2 separate regions of the Homo sapiens genome follow, and region 2 is linked to region 1. A link means that fine-mapping ties the variant in region 1 to the expression of a gene that starts in the linked region. Tissue or cell type: spleen. Region 1 holds a variant in brackets; the other region holds the start of a gene. All regions are shown on one strand. Distances are between the middles of the regions.

Evidence for each region. PIP is the estimated chance that this variant, and not a neighbour inherited with it, causes the effect.
Region 2: it holds the start of XIRP2, and the variant in region 1 is fine-mapped to the expression of XIRP2 in spleen (GTEx, PIP above 0.99).

What each region holds. Positions count from the first base shown.
Region 1 is chr2:167,131,576-167,139,687 of GRCh38, reverse strand. It overlaps XIRP2 (xin actin binding repeat containing 2), which reads right to left. Exons shown (of 11, transcript NM_152381.6): 3 at 3,626-3,779. All of the region lies in intron 1 of XIRP2-AS1 (XIRP2 antisense RNA 1), which reads left to right. Among named protein-coding and RNA genes, the nearest start is that of XIRP2-AS1, 5.3 kb to the left of the region's middle. The variant A/G (reference allele first, on the strand shown) is at 3,912.
Region 2 is chr2:166,883,571-166,891,682 of GRCh38, reverse strand. It overlaps XIRP2 (xin actin binding repeat containing 2), which reads right to left and starts at 3,203. Exons shown (of 11, transcript NM_152381.6): 1 at 3,126-3,203.

The DNA.
Region 1 (8,112 bases):
GACAATCACACAAATACATATACATACTACAGTATTTTAGAAACATTAATGACTGGAAGGATCCCCTCACGTAAAGAGCAGTAGAAAACTGAAAGAACAGAAGTCTCAGTTTGTTTTGTAAAACCCGTCAGAGGAGATGAATGGCCATTATAAGAATAAAGAATGAATTTAGTTTTAATGGAGCAGAATAAAAAGAGAAATACAGCAGGTAATTTCCAAGGTTTATTGCAAAAGCCTGGAAAAAGTGACTTTGAATATATATTTTATCTTTTGACATTTTACATGTTGATGACTTAGAAGATTAAAATTAAAATTATGAGTTAGAGAATAAAAGTGAAGGGCAGGCAATTGTCATATTAAAAAACTCCAAGTCATATAAATCTGATGAACATGACCCATTCAATTCTGATATTTGAAGCATTCCTTGATCCAGAGTTTTTCAGCAGGAAGAGTATATTTTTCAATTCTACATACATCTAGATCAAACACCAGTACCTAAGACTTCCAGTATTCACTTTCTAGCTTACTGGTCTTAAAATATCTAAAAGAAATTCAACAAATCATATATATATATATGCATATATATACGTACGTATATATATGCATATATATATATTTTTTGAGACAGAGTCTCGCTCTGTTGGCCAGCCTGGAGTGCAGTGGCGCCATCTCGGCTCACTGAAGCCTCCACCTGCCAGGTTCAAGTGATTCTCCTGCCTCAGCCTCCCGAGTAGCTGAGATTACAGGCACCCACTATCATGCCCAGCTAATTTTTGTATTTTTAGTAGAGATGGGGTTTCACCATGTTGGTCGGGGCTGGTCTCAAACTCCTGACCCTAGGTGATTCGCCCGCCTTGGCCTCCCAAAATGCTGGGATTACAGGCATGAGTCACTGTGCCCAGCCCAACGAATCAGATTTTTATATTAGTATAATACAATTAATCAAATCATTTACACTGATTGATTTGTTTTCTTTCATATCCCATCTATTATCAAATTACCCAAATTTGTCAAATTATGGATTTGCTATGCTTGACATTTAATGACATATGGTCTAAGTCTTCCTAGAATCATTTTAACAACTGTTAGAGTGTATCTCCAAGAAAATGTGAATGGAATGCACCAACATGCACACGGGAGCACTATGGTTTATTTGACACCAATACATAAGTGAGGAAAAGGAGCAAATAAAATAGACGTGGTGAGAGCAATTGTCCACAAACTGGGAACCTGGGAGTGTATCATCAGGCATAAAAAGAGAGGCTGGGGAAAATCATAGCACCTTTCTGTGCTGTTCTGGTTCTGCCATTGAGGATATTGGAGTGGAACCAAACTGACAGGCATTGCTAGTCCTCAGTCCTGGAATGGAGTTATCAATTCACACTGTTTACTAAATTTTAAATATGCAGGATATTAGGTAGCTGCACTTAAATTATCTTTTATAAGTGTAATTTTAAAAATCTACTGTTTTTCATATTACTACAAATAAATACTGCCTCAATATGAAACTCTTGCGGCTAGTTAAGATGTTTAATGTATAAGGCTGTCACAGTCACTCATATAATTGTATAAATTCTGAAATCTTTCAGTTATCACACTTTATTTAGAAACATGTGTTTATCTTTTTGGAATAAAATAAATATTTACAGCAAAACAGCAATATCAAAATGCTCTTGGTTTGTAGGTTTTGTCCAGTTTAACTTGCATGCTGTCCAAGTTAACTAAATTAAGTATTAAAATAGTTCATTCTTGTCCCAACAGAGATAGAAATTTGGGGCCCCATGAAAGAACGAAAAGGATCCCATAATGAAAGAATTTTGTTTCTTTTAAATGTATTGCTACGTAGGAATTAGAGTTCTTGTGCAATATACAGATAAAATGAAATTAAAATTGCTGCTATGTTCATCCACCTTGCAGATGCAATTTTCCCACCTTGTGTTTGGAAGTTTACTTCTTGTTATTGTCAATGTACCTGGAAATGTGTATTTGAGGTTACTTTTAAATTTCAGTCATATCTTGACAGTAAATAGTGGTTACACTCCAGAATACTTTTTCTAAGCTTTTAACATAAAAAGGCCTTTGAAAACCTTTGCATGGAAATCAAAGAAAACACAGATGAGGAGAAGTAAGATGTGATGAGTGGAGTTAATTATCTCATGTAACTTCGATCAGTTTGCCAAACTCATTTTTGCCTCCCTATGCTAAGCTCTCCACAGGCAAGCATCATCAGAATATAAATCATTCCTTAAAGCTTCTTTTTCCTTGGCCTCTGCTAATCTAATTCTTTTGCATTCAGCCAAGTGCACATAAAGTTTAATCACAGGCCAGAAATATGTGGAGTAAATTCCTCAAGACTGATACTAATCATATTAGGATATTAATTGGGCATACCAAAATGAATTGAAAGTGAAAAAGAGATTGAAATCTCAATTTACATGTATTTAGAAATCCATGCCCAGTCCATCATTAGCAAACTCCCCTTGACTGTTCCTACACCTGCCTCCCACTCCAAATTACATCCTTAAACCAAACGGAATCAGAATGGGCTGAACCATATGTAAATTCCCCTGAAGACCAGTCTGTTCTGTCACAGTGTACAGCTTCTCAAACTTTAATGTGCACATGAATCATTTGAGGATCCTGTTACAATGCAGATTCTGATTTAGTAGAACTGATGTGAGGCCGAAGGTTCTGCATTTCTAATAAGCCTCCAGGTGATGCTGACGTGCTGATTCGCAAACAGCACTTTCAATAACAAAGTTTTAAAGCAGAGTACCATTTGCTTTCCCAAACTGTGAACTGTAATATTCCAAAGACTTTCCACATTGCTCACATGGACTGGTGACTTGACAGTTTGCTACAAATATTCCAAACGATATCTTAAAATTTGTACTAATTATGATCTTTAACAAACACCACAAATACTACAATAGACATTATTTGGCTAAAGAGGAAAAATCCAGAATGTGCCTAATCAGAAATGATAAATAAGATCTGTATTTTCCAATAAGTTATTTATATTTTTCATGTCTGTCATTGTTGAAAATAATATTAATAGTGTGATTTCTAACATACGAGCTATTAACTTTTTAATGATATTTGTGAAGCATTAATCAAATTTATGAGGTTCTGTCTAAAATGTAACACTCTTATGTCACTTTGTATTCCAAATTCATTATGCAAGTTTAGTTTAATTGTCTGAAAAGGAGATGCTTAAGGCATCTTATTTATTTTTTTATTTTGCTACTGATAGTTACTCCTAGTTTATTCTTTTGTTACCCACAGACAGAAAGACAAGTATGTTTTCCTTTTATTTTCACAAAAGTTAAAGTCAGATTATGGTCAAGTGCATTGTTTCAAACCTCTAATACTGAAAATGCTTGTTGTACTGGTTTATAGTCAATTAAAATATATTCTATTTAGTTTTAAAAATCTAATTAAAATATAATAAGGATAGAAGCATTTATAAACACCTCTATTTTTCCTAAATTGTATTTCCTAAACTATATGCAGTCATTATTTTCCTTACTAATTTTTAAACAAACCCCTCATATATTTTATTTATTAACCACTCATGTTGTACAAGGTATGATGTCAAGAAAGCATATCAAAATGTTATGCTAACCTTCAAAGATGCGGCTGTGACCACTTTCAGGTGACATCTTGTCAAAAGATGTTTCCTTGCCTTTCTTGTCTGAATCTTTCACAGAATCCTCCAGCTGGCTCCCAGGGTGACTCTTAAAAGCTGGCGAGCACAAACTTCGCTCAATTTCCACTTCCTGTTACAAGACATTAAAGGGTTGTATGTTAAAAGCTATCAGTAGGAAACAGATGTGTTTTTTAGGGGGGTTAGAAGGCAGAAATGAAAGAGGGAGGGATTTCTGTCATGAGGGATGTTTTCAATATGCTTC[A/G]GGTAAAATGTTGATAACTTTGCCAAGAACTGCAAACATATATCTGAACGCTTAGTTTACTTTTCTGCCACTGGTTCCACTTCTGAATTAGCCTTCCTTTCATGTGTGTGTGTTTTTTTCTCTCATAAAAGAGAGAGAGTGGAAATAAGGGTCACAATACAACATAATATATGTTAATGGATGCAACTTTCTAGGCCTGAGAAATGTTGATGAGGGACTTTCAAAAAATGGCAATGTAAAAACATTATATGCTGAAGACAGAAGGAAATGAGTTTAATGTCATGTTCACCCTGTAATGATAACCTTAGCAATTATAGAGTTCCCAAATTACAAGCCCATTCAGCCAGCATACATTGAATACAGTTTTTCGATTCATAAAGATTATGAAATTACTTCTTCAGATAGTAATTTAAAGGTGAAGAGATAAAAGATTCCCAAAGAAAGGAAATATAAAGGATATTTCCAACATAGAAAGTCTAGCATTCCTTATTGTATAGGCCAATAAGGAATATACAGATTCCTTATTGTATAGGCCAAGTAATGTAATCAAATAAAACAAACCAGCCAAGTAGACTAAATATTTTGAATAAAAACATTGCAAAAAGTAAGTAAATGACTCAAGACAGTTCAAGAAGCAAAAGTCTAGTTTTAAATATGTCAAGTAATATGTTGAAAATGTTTTCAACAGCTACACATAAGTTAAAGATTTTCATACAGGAGGTCACACAGTAGTCTTCCCTGTAACTGTAGGTTTGGTTTCTGCAGTTTTATTTACCTGCGGTCCACAATATGAAATGAAAAATTCCAGAAATAAACCATTCATAAATTTTAAATTGCATGCTGATCTGAGGATCACTCCATCTGCCCAGGACGTGAATCATCAGTTTGTTTGTCCATACTACCCACCGTGATTCACTTAGAAGCTGTCTTGGTTATCAGATGGACTATCGTAGTATTGCAGTGCTTGTGGTCAAATCACTCTTATTTAACTTTTATTACAGCATAGTGTTTTAGTTAGTCTATTTTATTATGAGTTATTGTTGTGAATCTCTTACTGTGCTGAATTTAAAAGTTAAACTTTATTATAGGTATACATATATTTAGGAAAAGACAGAGTATATGTAGGGTTCGGTACTATATGTGGTTTTAGGCATCCACTAAGGGCCTTGTAACATGACCCCCATGGATAAGAAGGCACTATTGTATTTCTCTAAGCAGCCATTCAGATAATGATGTCAGTAATTGTTTTTCACTTTTGTTACCTCTTAAGTACACAGACATGAGTGAGTCAAGTTTGAGAGACAGCTAAAAGCTTCGAAACATTCTTAGAGTAGATACATTTTCTATGTCTTTGCTATGGTTAGAAAAGAAAAGCTTTTCAATTTATATATAATATATACACACATGTAAATATATATATACATACATCACATGTACATAACAAGTATATATGAAGATATATACACACACGTAAATATATATATACATATATCACATGTACATAAGTATATGTGAAGATATATATTCACACAAATATATAATATACATATACACATGAATATACATGAATATATATTCATATATATGAATATATTCACTATGTATATGTGTGTACATACATTTATTACAAATGTGTGTATATACACATATATACACATATATATAAAATCACTAGAAATATTGTTATCTGGTAATCATATCATCTTTGGATACTCCCAAAATATATGATGTATGCTGTCTTCATTAGAGTGAACTTTAACTGAAGCTAAAAACAATTGCAGGAGAAAAATAGAGAAAAAGAACTTGTCATTTTTTTCAGGGCATTCCCTTTAACATGTGTTTCCAACTATTACAAAAAATCCATATGTTCATAACTTGTAGTGAGGTATCATGCTGTTGAGACACAGTGTCAGACATGCCATTACATGTGGCACGAGTATAACATCCTTATCTCAGTTCATTCTGGTGTCCTCTCCACTGTCCTGGAAGGTGACTGCTATGACATGAACGCAGTATGTTTGCTTGTTTTGTTTCAGCAATTTAATCCAACTGCTAGCATTGGCAAAAACAAGATGAGATAAATAGAAGGTGCAGATCCCTACAAAGTTGTGATTTTTGTTAGGAAAATTTATGTTTTGGTAAAAGGTGGAATACTGAACATGGTCCATGGACTCAGACTGATGATATTAAGGAATAATTTCTGTTTCATATACCTACATGGAAATGTGATTTGATTAAATTTCAGCTGGTGATGACATTAACTTATACTATATTGGTATTCTCATTTTGGAATTCACAAGTATCAAGAGTGCATCTTGTACGGAGGCAGTAAGGAACAATCTACATGTGAATGTAGTGGACTTATTTTCAAGCCCTAGTCATCACATCAAAGTCATTCTGAGGCAAGCTCTTCAGGGCCTGGCAAGGGGTAAGGAGGCAGCTGTGTAGAGATGTAAAAGAGCTTCTTGGATGAGGCTGAATTGAGCTGTCTCCAATCAAAGCAGTGATCTGCTTTAATCTCTCGTAATCTGTTTTATACACTGTGCTTCCACAAAAGATTTACTTTGAGTAAAAATCTAGAAGCTTAAACAAATGCGTACAATACCACTTTAGAAGGAACAAATGCAGCATTTCACAATAAGAAAGTTGGATTCAAGCCCTCCCTTGGCTACTAATAAGCTTTGTGGCCTTGATTAAGTCACTTGCCATTTCTAGGACTAAGTTTTCTCAAATGTTCTTGGAAGAGATTTAGTCATTGAACACCTAATGTTCAACAACCAACTACTGGTGGTATAATTTTATTTAAAATAAAATAAAGAAATGTTTTTCACCTTTTGTGGCTTCCAGTCTAGAGAAGGAGGCAAATAGTAACGAAGCCCAGGAGTCAGTATTAAACATGCAACTCTAATGCTGAGTGTCTTAATGGGGGAATTAACTCAGTGAGAGAGAGCCCTGTATAGGGCTCTCCCAGGGAAACGACCTTCAGCTGATATTTGAAGAATGAATGGGGCTTAACTACGTGAAGAGCTTTCCAGGTGAAGACAATATGTGCAAATGTCCTGGACTGGGAGGGAGGACAGAGGATAGAGTAGGTGGGAGCAGGGAGGCTGAAAGGAAACACGTGGTGCTGGATGGCCTGCAGAGGCAGGCCGGGAGCAGATCACAAAGGCCTGCAGCACCATATTTGCTTTGTCTTAGCTCAATGGGAAGTTATTGAATGTTTTTAAGTGTGTGTGTGTGTGTGTGTGTGTGTGTGTGTGTGTGTATACACATGCACACATGACATAATCAGGTCTGCCATGTGAAAAGCGCAGTCTAACTCCAGAACAGGATTTCTAAATCTTGTCACTGTTAATATTTTGAACCAGATAATTCTTTGTTATTAGAGCCTTATTCTGTGCAGGTAGGATGTTTGGCAGCCTTCCTGGTCTCTACCCACTAGATGCCAGGAGCATTTGTCCCTAGCTCTGGAGTCATAACTATTAAAAGTGTGTTCGCACATTGCAAAATCTCATGTGGGGAGCAAAGTCACTGCTGGTAAAGAGCCACTACTCCAGACTGGGTTAGAGTAGAAGGTTACAATACATGTGGAAAGAGCAGTTAGTATAGCAGTACTGCAGGCAAGTGATGATGATCTTAAAGAAAGAATGATGATGGAGATGGCCAGAAGTGAACCAAGTTGAAAGCCATTTAGGAGATACAACTTTCAAAGCTTGGTCATGGATTGAATCGGAAGTTTGAGAAGGATAGAGAGAGGAGGGGAGAGAGAGAATGAGAGAGAGAGGGAGTGAGAATGGGAGAGAATTTAATTTTTCTCTATGGCATGCACAACAAAATGGATTGTGAAGCTATTAAATGATGTCAAAATATCAGATAAAAGCTGGTTTGAGGGAGATGATAGATCATGAGTTGGGTAGCAAGATGTCCAAAAGGCAGTTGGATGTGTAGCCCTGGAGCTTAGAGGAGAGGTCCAAACTGAACAACTAATTTAAGTCATCTGCCTTCCGTGGTAATTGAAACAACAGGCTTGAATGAACTTGCTTAGGGGGAGAGTATATAAAGTGTGATGGAGAGTGAGTCCAGAACCAAGCCTTGAAAAATGCCAACATTAAATGGATGGCAGAGGAGAAAAATCAGAAGGAAAGAACATCTTTGACAATATTGAACTTGTATTGAAAGTATTAATTTGAAAAGGACTTAA
Region 2 (8,112 bases), 250 kb after region 1:
AAAAAAATCAAAAGACAACAACTGAAAGTGTTTTTCCAAATAAAGCAAGTAATTGATCTTTTCTGGGAGGGAAATTTTAATTAGTTTTGGCAGATAGTTGCTCAATATCTATCTGATAAGAATGTGAAAGAAATTAGTTAAGAGATTCAAAGAAATGGCATTTTCAATATTAAGGAAAAAACTTAACTAAAGCTTTATTATTATATATTGTCAATTACATTAACTTCTCCAGCTATGCTAGGTTTATCAGAACAATTAATTTTTCTGCCAAAAATGTAGCTAACATAGTACATTACTTAATTTCCCACTAATAGGATGCATGCATAATTCATATATGTAAAAAAGAGATAGGAACAATGCATTTGTTTATTTTTCTTTCTTTTATCTCCACATTCACATTTATTAAGTGAACCAGCTAAGGCACCTTGCTAAGACAAGTTATTAGAAGAATTTATGAAGTTGTATATTTGCAATAAGCTTATCTTACCGCCATGTCTTTTTCTGTCAAATTTCTGTCCTGTGACTCAGCTACCACAGTCACGTATCCATTAAAGGAAAACACAAATTTAACAGTTCTTTAACTTACTGATCTCATCTAACTAATGAACATCAAGCATGATGGACATACGTCGCCAGATAGCAGCTACAAGACACCAAATCTCTCATAGCCAGCTCTGGGAGCTGCATTATTTAGTAAGTCATGGAAGAGAGAAGTGCACCCTCAACCATAACCCCTGTTTGTGCTAGGTACTCAGCTTACAAGTTTACTCGTTAAAGGCTGATTGAAGCAGCTTTTGTTTCCAAATTCTATAGAAAAATAAACTCATCCTTAGTAAAAGGACCCATCTCAGAGTCCCAGAAAACTGTCTGGAGGATATGGGTAATTAGTATTTAACAAAAGAAGAAATTTGTTAAATATTTCATGGATTATCCCAAGCAGGCTGCGTACCAGACAATACCTGTTATTTAGGACAAAGCTGATGATCTGTCATATCAGCTTCTGCTACACCCACATACAGAATACATCTGTAATAAAAGAAGCATGCAAAATTTGCTCTCATGAAATTTCAAATATGAATCTCAGTGTGAATAATAAAAATAAAAACAAACTTTTAGAGTTTACTATTGAGAGCTGTCAAAGAATTATAAAACATAAATCCAGACTTCAGGGATTTACAGTCTGTTCAGATGCTCTGGTTCTCACCTTTTCTGTGCACCAACATCATCTGAGATGTCCTTAGCACTGCAGATTCTTAAGGGCCCACTCGGGGAGTTTCAGCTAGTTTCAAGGTCTGGAATTTGAACTGGGAACTGGCCTTCTTAGAAAGCACCAAGAGGTGATTCTGATGCCCGAAGCCTATGAACCCACAGTTAAAAAATAAAACTTAGGGGCCAGGCACGGTGGCTCATGCCTGTAATCCCAGCAGTTTGGGAGGCTGAGGTGGGAGGATCATGAGGTCAGAAGATTGAGACCATCCTGGCTAACACGGTGAAACCCCATCTCTACTAAAAAACAAAAAAATAGCCAGCATGGTGGCACGTGCCTGTAATACCAGCTACTCAGGAGGCTGAGGCAGGAGAATCGCTTGAACCTGGGAGGTGGACGTTGCAGTGAGCCGAGATCACACCACTATGCTCCAGTCTGGGTGACAGAGCAAGACTCTGTCTCAAATAAAATAAAATAAAATAAAACTAAAAAGTAAATAAAACTTAGCTACATCAACAGAAATATTAATGAACTGGAGAAGACACAACACCATTCATTAATTCAATACCTGCTTGAGGATTGCTTGCTATGGAGAAGAATAACAAGGAGAAGAAGGTGGAGATGGGGCTTACCCCAAAAAGGGGAAGAAATCTAGACTTATGAGAGAATGAAAATGAAGAAAATGACTACCAGCAAAAGCACAAAGGCATGGAAGGACTCATCAACATCAAGAACCCCAAGCAGGTAGGATAGACAACCAGAAAGGTCAAACAAGTGGATCTGGACAGGCTAAAGGAGCTTTTAAGGAGAAAATGCACTAGCAGGAGAGACAGAGCAAGCCAAGGTGGGCCTTGCCTGGCTGGTGATCATCTGGAAACAGTGGGAGAAGGCTGCAAGGAAGAAGGAAGTGGAGAGGAAAGCAAAATATGGTGCCACATTGTTGGGAAAATGAACATGGTTGCTCCCCTTGAATAAATAAACGCCACCTGCAGGAGGAGAGGCCAGGGACCTGGGCCAGAACCTCTGCTGTGTCTCACCTACCCTGTGCCCTGGCTCCACTGCAGCAGCCCTTCAAGGCCAGAAGCCCCATGGCCTGGGACATCCTCTTCATCTTGGCACAGAAATTGTTTAGGGAGGTGTCTGGGGGCGAGTGGGGAGAGAGTGGAGGAGGGACAGCTGTCATCTCTGAGATAGAAAGGTGCAGGAAAGCATTTCATATGTAACAATTTGAATGTTTTTTGCTGTTTTTAGAATTCAGAACCCTTGTTGGAGTGCCTAAGAAGTGGGGTAAGAAGAGCTTCCATTTGTCTGCTAGATCACATGTTAGTGGGTGGTTGTGCCAGGAGGCAGCTGCTGAGGGGTTTGCAACAACCACCCTGGTCTGTGTGCCTGAATGCTTATTCAGAATGGGGCTGTCAGCTGCAGGCTCATGCCCTTGGGTCCCTGAGGGTCATGGCTTTGTCCCTGGCGAGTCCTCTCTGACCTGACTCAATGGAACGAAGGAAGAAAGGAGAATTGCCCAGATGCTTTCTTTGGGTGATGCTGTTTTTGTTAAATTTCTTCCCCAGAAGTCCCTGACTATCTTTCAGTGTCCAAAAATATAATATATAGCCAAACTTACGTGTTTTGAGTCTGAGAGATTAACTATTTTTTCTCTGGGCACATTGCTGCCCCAGATTAAATTGTTTCTTAGTTAGAAAAACAAATGAATAACTAGAGATTCTAGCAGCAGTGTCTGTCACTAAGCGCTAGCCTGAATTTGTTGATGATGCTGTGATTCTATGCTAATTTAATGTATATTACTTAAAAGAAATAGGGAGAGAGAGGCAAAATAGTGTCCTGTCAGAAACTATCAAAGAGAAGCATGTATGTGTAGAAAAAATTATGAAAGAAGTGGTTTTTCTTAGGAAAATCTTACCTTTTTTCTACATGTCCCAGTCCCTACCAGATGTTCCCTTTTGTCTGCCTAGAGACCTGCCAGATTTCTCCAAATAATCCTGACTTCCTGGATACACCCACATAGAAACAGGTCGGGTTCTAGAAGAATTTGTCTGCTCCATGTTCCATCAGAATCAGATTATCTCATTATTTTGGAACAAGTTAATCTGCTGCAGATGAATTAATGAATGCTGCTGAGTTAGCTATTATCATTTTTTTCCTACATATTCTTAAAGGTATGTTTTAACCCAAAGACCCATAGTGACCAATGGCTCACTCTATGGCTGAGCTACACTTTAATTATCACTGTGCGTCAGGTTCCATACATATAAAAATAAACCTAATATTTAATTCAAAGTCATTTGTGAGGGGTTGGGACACCTGAGAATTTTGGATAATGATCATGAACATAGAGTCCAGATTCAAACCAAATGGCTTCAAATTCCTACTCAAACACTAGTATATGACATTAGATGCATTATTTAATATATCCAAACATTAGTTTCCTCACTTGAAAATTGGGATGATAATAGTATGTTCTAACTATACTGTTGTGAGATGAACAAAATAAATGAAATCACGCTCATAAAGAACTTAGGATAGTGCTTGGTATGAAGCAAGTGATCAGCGGATGTCAGCTTTTATTAGCAGTATTTAAGTATAGTTATTTGCAACCAAAAAGTGCTTAGCGATATCAGTTATCATCTTCTACAAATTATAGGAGACCACAGCTTCTGAGATAATTTTATTTTATTTTACATATAGTAAGCTATATACTATTTCAAATAAGTAAAGTCTTTCTCTTCGCAGACTCTAATTGCAGAGTCTAATTTGATTCTTATTTGGTCATCTAATAGCTCTTTGTTCCAAACTGGGGTTTTTATATATAAGGGGTTCAGTGATATACTACTAAAGACAATGTTGATTTTTTTGCATAAAGGAATTCAATAGCAGAAATGCATTTTAATATAATAAATTAAATCTTACAACTTTAATCAATGAATTTTCATATATAAAAATGACCATAAATTATATAAATAACTGCAGTGCTTAGCCAGTATTCAAACTGTAGGTTTCAGAAATCTTGTTTGAAAGCTTAAAATATAGGGCAGTTATGATATGGTATTTGGAGACGATACAGGGTGTGATATAAAGGTTCGACTACAAGGCTAATGTTATAAACTGGTCACATTTTGAACTGCAAATTCTGGTGACTTAATTATTTTTCCAAGAGTTTGCCAAAGTCAATAAAGAACAATTAGCTCAACATCTATGAACTTAAAAAGGACTTAGACATTCTGCTATATTAAAAAGACTAAATGCAGTACTTATCTTGGTGTGTTTCTTGTTTCTACTCTGGGAAGATTAAAAAACAGATAACTTTAGAAATTACAGACCTGTCAGCATCAGTATTTAGTTGAAAACTTACTGAAACATATCATCAAAAAATCAATTTTCAAGCACCTAGAAAATCATGAGTTACTGGGTAAAATCTCCTTGGCACTGTGAAAAATAAATCCTGTCAAATCAACTTAATTTCCTTCCACGACAGAGTGACAAAAACAGTAGACACAGAGAACTGGATAGACAAAATATATCCTGACCAAAGTCAGGCAAATTCCACATAACACAGAGAGAAAATACAGTTTGGGTGACATTTTGTCTTTATTAAGTACTCCTATTGAATAACTATGCTGAACATATCTGGAAGTGATACTCAGCTGGAATATTGAACATGTAAGGTGACTGGTTAGATATAAAGATGAGAGCATTCAAGACCAAGTTGTGGCAGGGCTGATTCTCACTATTTTAAACAAAATATTATCGGTAATTATGAGAAACCAAGTAAGAATCAGCATCATTTTGCTACTTCTGTTTTTTTAAAAAAGCAAGATCCCCAACAGAAAAGGATGTGTAGAACTGTAATGCCCACATAATGTTGCGATGGGACTACTGTTGGCACATTTGGGGTTTGGAGGCCCAGGAGAGTGAAGATGAATGGCATGAAATGAGGCATGCCTTTGAGTCAATGCTTCTGACCAGTGAGGGATCCATTTTTACTTCTGAGTCCAAATGTTTTTCCCACAAGAAAAGGTTAATGTATCCCTCTCATCTCCAAAGACTCATTTAACAAAATGACTCGTTTAACAAAATGAAAACAGCATGGACAAATAAGAGAGTGACATTTTTAAGAAACATTGGTATAGTTCCTAAGCAGAAAACCAGAAATCTGTGTGTGCATTAAAATAATAAACCACTTAGTAAAAATAATAATTGATTTTAAAGTGAATTTTGAGGAATCCCTTTAGCAGATATTCAAAGTATTTGGAAATAATGATAAATAACCTGATTTCAGTACATTATCATCCCATCCTAGAAGCTTGTAACAGTGGGAGACAGATGAAGATAGTGAGATTTCAAAGAAAGGGTAGTAGACACTATATCAACAATAAAGTATTTCCTTAGACAAGAGCTTGAAAATAATTTTCATCTCATGTGCCAACTCTAATTTTTAGTTGCCACCTGAGTAGGCTTGAGAAGTTGCACTAGGCCCACTCTAAAGAATAAAGAAGTGCACCAACCATTCAATTTGATGGGGGTGAGATATTTTGCCCATTCCCATGAAGACACAGACAGCAAGTTTATACTGGAGCCTAACTATAGTATTTATATTTGACTACATAATAAATCCATAGCAAGTAGTTGTTCTTGAATATTTGTTTATTCATTCTCAGCTAGGCTTTGGTATCTTTATTAGGACTTAAATTAAAAACTTTCTCCAGGTGTTGTTATACATATCTGATCTGGGTAAACCTACCTGGTTGCTGAAGTTCAGATTCTAATGCACTGAATGTCAACCAGGACCTTTTAGGGAATTGCGTCTTAACAACACTTATTTCTGTTGGGCTGTGCTAAATCATCTAGTCTCAACAATTATTAGATGCTTAGACTTCTCCTACAATACACATGTGGATGGGCCCTCCAGACTGGGTTGGCACATTATTGTAAGAGACTCACTTGTATTTATTAATTCATCAACTTGACACACATGAGATCCAAAATCAACTGGGAAAAAAGTCACTAGTTATTGAATTAAATCCCATGCAGTCTTTTATTCCCCAGGACCTTATATTTTGGTGTGACATTCCAGTGAATTAATTTCTGACTATAATTCATTGTTGAAAGGCTTGGCAGAGGAGTTGTGGAAGTCCAAAGCAAGGGTTTTGAATAAGCTCTCATTTGAAAAATTATATTTCTTGCATTAAACCCAAAATATCTCTGTAATTTTCCCTTTGAGCCTGTTCTAAGCCTTGAGGCCATATAAAACAAGTCTAATCCTTCTTCCACATGAACAAACAATCTTTAAATATTTGAATAAAATTCTAATGGGTCTCTTAAATTTTCTTTTTCTATTCAAGCAAACCATCCACAAATGTACCCTAATATAAATGCTTTTAATTCTTCTAGTCATCATAGTTCTAACCTGTTCACCATCAACAACCAGAATTAGTCATGTATTCTCTCAGCACTTTATAAATTGCTTATTTCTATTCCTTTAATAGACTGAGAAATGTTAAAAGACAGTTAATATTTTGATTCATTTGTGATCTCCTGCATATTTTACATGGGGCCAAAATCAATTGACTTTAACTGAACATAAGGGAAAAGGTTTTAAAAAAATTTGGAAAATAAACATTTGATACCAGATTGTTTGGGAGTATACAGCAATTGCAGTGGCAAGTACAGATTCTTAGGAAAATAAGATATATTGAAGTCCTATTGAAGTCTTTATTGCTAATGCCATGTTTTTACTAGGATTGCTTTCTAACTAACTGTTAAGTAGATTGCAATAGCCCAGAGTGATATTCTGAATATTTAACAACTAGTATCAGATGGACATAATCCTAGTATTAAAGCAGCATCCTGGAAGCATTGACTATATCTTGGGAAAGTTTCGGAGTCACAAGGAGGACATTTACAAAGAATTTCAAAATTATTTTTGATATTTTAAAAATCAGTAAGGCAATCACGGTGACTAATGGCTGAGTAACAGCCTTTGAAACAGAATTTTAGCATTAGTGATTTTAATGGAAGCCCTGAATCAAAATCTCACATTGTCCAGGTCATAAAGGGAAAATGACCCGTTCAAGTTCACAGGATTAGTGACAGAGATAGTATTCAAAATGGCTAAGAATGCCTTAATATTTTCTGCAGCTTGACTATACTTTACAGACTTCTTACTATTGACCCCTGACTCCCTTAGAATATCTACTTTAGAAAACTTTCGATTGCAAATTTTTTGACTCTCTGAATCTTCTCCCAGCTTCTTGCCAATTTTATAACCCAGAAAAGTTTTCTCAAGGACCTACCCTGATGCAGTCATTACACACTGCAGGCTTGTGTCAAAACATCACATGTATCCCATAAATAACATACAACTATTATGTAGTCATATTAAAATATTTTTTAAAAAAATCAAGAAAGATAGCATTCCCATCTCCCAGTCTCTATGGGAAGGTAAGAGCCCAACTTCAGTAAGTGTCAATTAGTAAACACAGATGGCCTAGTCACACTGACCACCTCCCCACTAATGTCCTCCAGTACTTTTCCACCAGTTCACCCCACTATAAAACTCTACCAACTTTTGTTTCAGCAGAGATGCTTTCAATCTCTCTTCCCTAAAGTGATGTCTTAAATAAATCCTTTCTTGCCTGTTCAACTTGTCGAGTGCAATTTTTCTCTGATAGAACCCCCTACATCTTCAAACTCTTGAGCTTTTTTTTTTTTTTTTTTTTTTTTTACAGAGTCTCATTCTGTCACTCAGGCTAGAGTGCAGTGGCGTGACCTCAGCTCACTAAAACCTCTGCCTTCCAGGTTCAAGCGATTCTTATGCCTCAGCCTCCGCTGTAGCTGGGTTTACAGGTGCCTGCCACCAGGCCCAGCTAATTTTTGTATTTTCAGTAGAG